Linked DNA regions of Homo sapiens: region 1 is linked to region 2. A link means that fine-mapping ties the variant in region 2 to the expression of a gene that starts in the linked region. Tissue or cell type: spinal cord. Region 2 holds a variant in brackets; the other region holds the start of a gene. All regions are shown on one strand. Distances are between the middles of the regions.

The links. PIP is the estimated chance that this variant, and not a neighbour inherited with it, causes the effect.
Region 1: GREM1-AS1 starts here. The variant in region 2 is fine-mapped to the expression of GREM1-AS1 in spinal cord (GTEx, PIP 0.96).

What each region holds. Positions count from the first base shown.
Region 1 is chr15:32,717,437-32,719,936 of GRCh38, reverse strand. GREM1-AS1 (GREM1 antisense RNA 1) reads left to right here and starts at 1,072. Exons shown (of 2, transcript NR_109767.1): 1 at 1,072-1,392; 2 at 1,573-1,836. GREM1 (gremlin 1, DAN family BMP antagonist) reads right to left here and starts at 1,933. Exons shown (of 2, transcript NM_013372.7): 1 at 1,776-1,933. RefSeq lists enhancers at 633-1,210, 1,211-1,789, 1,927-2,427.
Region 2 is chr15:32,665,358-32,668,117 of GRCh38, reverse strand. All of the region lies in intron 10 of ARHGAP11A-SCG5 (ARHGAP11A-SCG5 readthrough), which reads right to left. All of the region lies in intron 2 of SCG5 (secretogranin V), which reads right to left. It overlaps SCG5-AS1 (SCG5 antisense RNA 1), which reads left to right. Exons shown (of 4, transcript NR_135505.1): 3 at 1,630-1,679; 4 at 2,201-2,416. LOC124903458 (a long non-coding RNA gene) reads right to left here. Exons shown (of 2, transcript XR_007064573.1): 1 at 2,553-2,760; 2 at 998-1,315. Among named protein-coding and RNA genes, the nearest start is that of SCG5-AS1, 6.3 kb to the left of the region's middle. The variant G/A (reference allele first, on the strand shown) is at 1,364.

The DNA.
Region 1 (2,500 bases), 52 kb before region 2:
CTTAAGATCTTTCCCTCCTTGCTTTGAAAAGTACATCCCCCCCTCAAGACTCTCATGCTCCCCCTCCTTCCAAAAAAAGAGAAAAGGGGAGGGGGAAGCCCTAGGGATGAAAGAGGACTCCTCACCCTAGAATGGGGTTATCTTAACCTCTTCTACGCTATTTATTTAACTTGTGTGTACAGCCAGAAGGAAGCCACTACTCTGGGGTCCCTGGGACAGCTTAAAACCCTAGTGACCCACTTAACACAATAGATTGTTTTAATCAGTTCGTGTCCTGGCACCATCTCGAAGGGGAACATAAACAGACGCGCACACCGCTCAGATTTGCTCTTTCCAGCAGGAGATCCAATTACCTATCGGTGGTCACCTCTCTGCCCTCGGACCGTTTAAGAGGGGGATTTTAACCCCTAACGCTGAGGCTGTATTTCTGTCTATAAGAGCCGAGATTCGGAGTCGGTCGAGGAGGGGAAGGCAGTAGACGGATTCGACCCGGGAATGCATTAGGGACAGCTCCGGGCGCGCAGGAATTTCTTCACAGCAGAGGCTGGTCACCTGCCGTCCGTCCCTCCCCGCCTGGCCCGGTGACCGTCGCCAGAGCCTGGCGCAGGCAAATAAACGCCAAGCTGGGGCACCCCCAAGGAGGAGCTGCGATCCGAAGGCAATGCCAAGCGAGAGCGGTGGCGCGTCTGTTCTTCCGGAGTCTGTAGTCTACAAATAACTCCGGCCAGCAAGGAGGTGACAGCCCCAATATACCTCCCACTCCCCTGCTATGGCCTTGCTCCGCAAGCTGTGGAGGGGCCAGCGGAGCCAGCCAGGCAGCGAGAGAGAACGAAAGACGCCCAGCTCGTTGCAGCCGCCAACCCGCCTCAGCCGCCAGTCCCTAGTCCTCAGGAGCTAGTGAGGCGCTGCAAGGCGAGGCTGGGGCCTCTAGAACACAGTTTAAGGGGTGCGCGCGGAAGTGGGAACCAGCCGGTGGCCGCTGCCCGGCGCCAGAACGTCTACCATTCAGCCCGGGCGTGCGCGGGGCGGGGAAGAGGCTGGAGTAGAGAAGCGAGCGCCCGCGAGTGCGTGGCCGGTCCGCGAGCGCGTGTGGTGTCTGCCTTGTGAGCACTGCGGGTTCGCTGGACCCCGCGGCCAGGGCCGCGCCCCGCACCGCAGCTGTCGGATTACCCACCGTTCGGTTTTCCGCTGTGGCTGAACACAGCGGCTCTGCCCTTGCCAGTCTCCATCTCACCTCGGGGATCGGCAAATGCACACATCATGGATTCTCCGGATGCTCCAACCCGCGGACTCCAATGGGCGCCCCAAGACGCCCCCAGACCCAGCGCGGCGCCCCAAGCACATGGGACCCTCTCAAGGCAACTCGCCGCGCAGTCAGCGGCCGACTAGCAGGTCCGGATGCTCCTGCGCTCTGGCGGCCTGGACTTCGCGCCCTCGCTAAGCGGGCGCGTCTGCCAGGCGCTGCTGCCACCAGCACCAGGAGCGTGTTCGGGGGCCTCCGGGAGGTGGAAACGGGATGTGGGGGTCATCCTGCCCGCTCCTGACAACTTTTTTTCCTACGTTTCCCTGCAGACCCAGAGCAGCGAGGTCACGGTGTCCGCGGCCTCAGCAGGAAGGACCCCGCGATGGTTCTTCACAATTCACCCCCGCGAACAACGCACCCGAGCCTGCGCGCACGGAGGGCTGCCGCGCGTGGAACTGAGCGGGTCCTGGGTTGGTTTGCGGCCCTCTTCCCTCCGCCCACTCACATCCCTGCCGGGTGCGTCCGCGCTCACCTGTCAGTGCGGCGGGTCCTCGGGGCCTGCGCTTTCGACGCGTGGCGCTGAGTGCGGCCGCGGCCAGAGCCGCCGGGGCTCGGCGCGGGGTCAGCGGGACCGAGAGTGACGCGGCGGCCGTGCACTGGGTCGCCCGGTCCGCGGAAGGCGCACCGAGTGCCAGGCATCGCGCCGTCTCCCGTTTAAATGCCGGCGGCAGAGCGCGGCGCCCGGGGCCGCGCCTCTCCATTGGCCAGGCGCCGCCGCCGCCGCCAGACCCGCTATCCGCCCCCTTTCCCGGTACTGCCCCCGCCCCCCGCACCCCTCCTGCTTCCCCGCGGGGTCCCCTCTCCGCCCGCCTCGCCTCTTTGTCTGCTCCCCCCGCCCGGGCCGGCTGGGAGAGGTCACCCCAGGGAACCGCGCCTGGAATGCACAGCAAATCACATTTTCCGCTCCCGTTGGAGAGGGAAGAGCGGGAGGAAATCCCCCCGGCTGGCGGCCCCTCATTCCTTCTCTGCCCCAGGTCTGGGCTTTCCCTGTCGGCCGCCCGGCATCGCCTGCGTTGGTCCCGCGCTCAGTAGCGGAGACTGCGCTGGGAAGAGCGAGATCTCCGTGGGATCGTGCCAGATTCGGCCATTCTTCCCCTCTGGAGGGAACGGGACTGCGGGATGCTCTGGTCGAGCGGCCGTCGTGGCTCCCCGGCGGCCCCGCCCGAGGCCCCCAACTTCGAGGGCGCTGACCCCGGC
Region 2 (2,760 bases):
CGTTGGGGAGGGGCCCAGACTAAATCCTCTACAACCCTTTGGTAATGCTTTCCTGGCCTGTGGTTTCCCATCTCATACAAATATTCCCAATTTCTCTCTTTTATATCCATGTAACCTCTGCCTGGCAATAGGTATTAAGAATAAAGTGGGTCCGGTGGCTCATGCCTATAATCCCAGAAGTTTGGGAGGCCGAAGCGGGTGGATCACTTGAGGTCAGGAGTTTGAGACCAGCCTGGCCAACATGGTGAAACCCCATCTGTAATAAAAATACAAAAAAGTTATCCAGGCATGCTGGTGTGTGCCTGTAGTCCCAGTTACTCGAAAGGCTGAGGCAGGAGAATCACTTGCACCCAGGAGGCGGAGGCTGCAGTGAGCCGAGACTGTGCCACTGCACTCCAGCCTGGGCGACACAGTGAGACTCTGTCTCAAAAAAAAAAAAAGAATAAAACTACAACAAACCAAACAAAACAGTATTCACTAGTTATTATCAACTTTGTGCCAGACCTGGAGCCAGAACTCAATGTTATGTTAAAAGAGATAGACTCAAAGGCGGCCACAAAGCTGTGTGGACAGTGATGAGCAATTCGTGCCTTAAAGTCCAAAGGAGGTGCCTCCGGCAATACGCTCAGACAGCTGCAGCACTACACACAGACACTGGAAATACACCTCACAGAATTCTTCTGATTCTTAAAAATGGCAAGTCTCTTACCCACACATGGTAAAACGGGTGAAGAAAGCACACATAACTCAAATTCATAAAAACACCAAACTTATCTTTAAAAATGGGCTTCAACCTTCCCATCCACCCACTTCCAACCAAATTTTTAACTAGAACTATTGATGAAAAATAATGTTGGCCTGAGTCAGTTCTAGTCCCCTTTATATATTATTTTAAAATAGTATATAGCAGTGCTGTTCTATAGAAATAGAATATGAACTACATTTGTAATTTTAAATTGTCTAGTCTTCTCACTTCAAAAAGTAAAAAGAAATAGTGAAATTAAATAATTTTTAATCCCAATATATCCAAATTATCATTTCAACATGTAATTGATATAAAGAATTGCCAAAGAGACTTTTTATATTCTTTTTTGCATACTGTCTTCCAAATAGGGTGTGTAGTTTATACTTAGAGTACATCACAACTCCAGCCAGCCATATTTCAGGTGTTCAGTAGCCTCTTGGGCGTGGTGAATACCAAATCGGTCAGAGCAGGTGTATAGAGGAGGCTAGACATGGCGATCAAAAGTGCAGCCTGCAATCCAGATGCTTGAGTTTGAATATTGGCCTCATCACCTTAGCTGTATGACCTCATCTGTAAAACAAGAATACTTAAGTAATACCATCCTTAAGCCGTTGGTAT[G/A]AGGATAAAATAAAATAGTCCTTGTAAGGCTTTTTGCAAGAATTCTGGCAAATATTGTGCTTAATAAATGTTAGCTAGGGTGGTCACTTTATAATGCATGAGCTCTATACTTAAAAACATATGTGGTCCTGAACAAGTTATCTTACCTCTTTGAATATTAGTTTCCTTCTCTGTAAAACAGGGGTGATAATAATACTTCATTGAGAAGATTAACTGGTACAAACATAGCACTTAATAAATGTTCGTTTCTTTCTCCTTGACTTTAGGTGCCAATGAACAGAGAAATAGCCAAAGGGCTCGCTGAGTGGGAGCAGAGGTAAATGGGCCTGGATAATTGGAAAACTGGATAGTCACGAGGTTAACTATGCCACAGGCAAGAATCCAGATGGTTCCAACCTACCTCAGCCAGTGTGAGAATGCCCAGTAGATGTGTTTCTTTTGTAGTTCCTTTACTAGAAGCTTTATAAGAGCAGGCATGTTCACTGTTTCACAGGCTAATAGAAATAAAGTATGTATGTGCATCTTATGTAACATATCCCTACGTATGTATGCTGAATTCAGTAGGCAGCCATGTTCAGTATTTTAGAGCTGTAGCCATCACTCAACTCCCTTGTGTTGATAAGAAGAAACATTCGGGGAAAAGAAGACCTATTTGTTTATTGTAAGATTCAAAATCTCTAAGGGTAATGGCCTTTATTTCTTTCCTACTCAGAAGTTTGTTTTTCCCTATTTAATAGCTCATACAGGATTTTGAAAAAGGAAAACTTAAAAATTTTAATTAGAACCATATCCTAAATATCCTTCTGCTCTTCTGCATGTTTGTTTATTTTTTCTTAGGATTGATTTGTTCAGAGTTTTGAAATTACCAGGGAAGAGCTTTTGAGGATGTTTGAGATCCATGATTCAAAACAGGGAGGGACACATGAGTGGCAGGTGACATCAGAAGCCACCAGCCATTCCTCAAATTGCCAGCTCTGGAGCCCTCCATCCTGCACTAGAAGGAGATACTGCAAACCCTGCCAAGGTGTTCATGCTTCTCGTGCTTTAACATTTCAAAAAGCTCAATTCCCAAAGACAGTGAAACTGCCACGAAAAACAAAATGAACTCTGGATGACAAGGAGGCCCAGTCATTTCTCCTATCAATGGAAAGGGCAATTTTGATCAGAGACAAATAGTACTTGATTTTACCTATAGGGACTTATGACTTATTCACAGCTCTGACTCCTCTTCTCCACAGGAATTCAATAATGTAAACCTAATAATAAAAAATGACATAAAATGAATGTAATGAGAACACCCTAAAACTAGTTTCCCTCCTGGCCTATCTCCATGTTGCATCTTTCAGAAAGTGTCAGAAACGAGACTTAAACAAACAAATAAAAAAAAAAACCCCAAA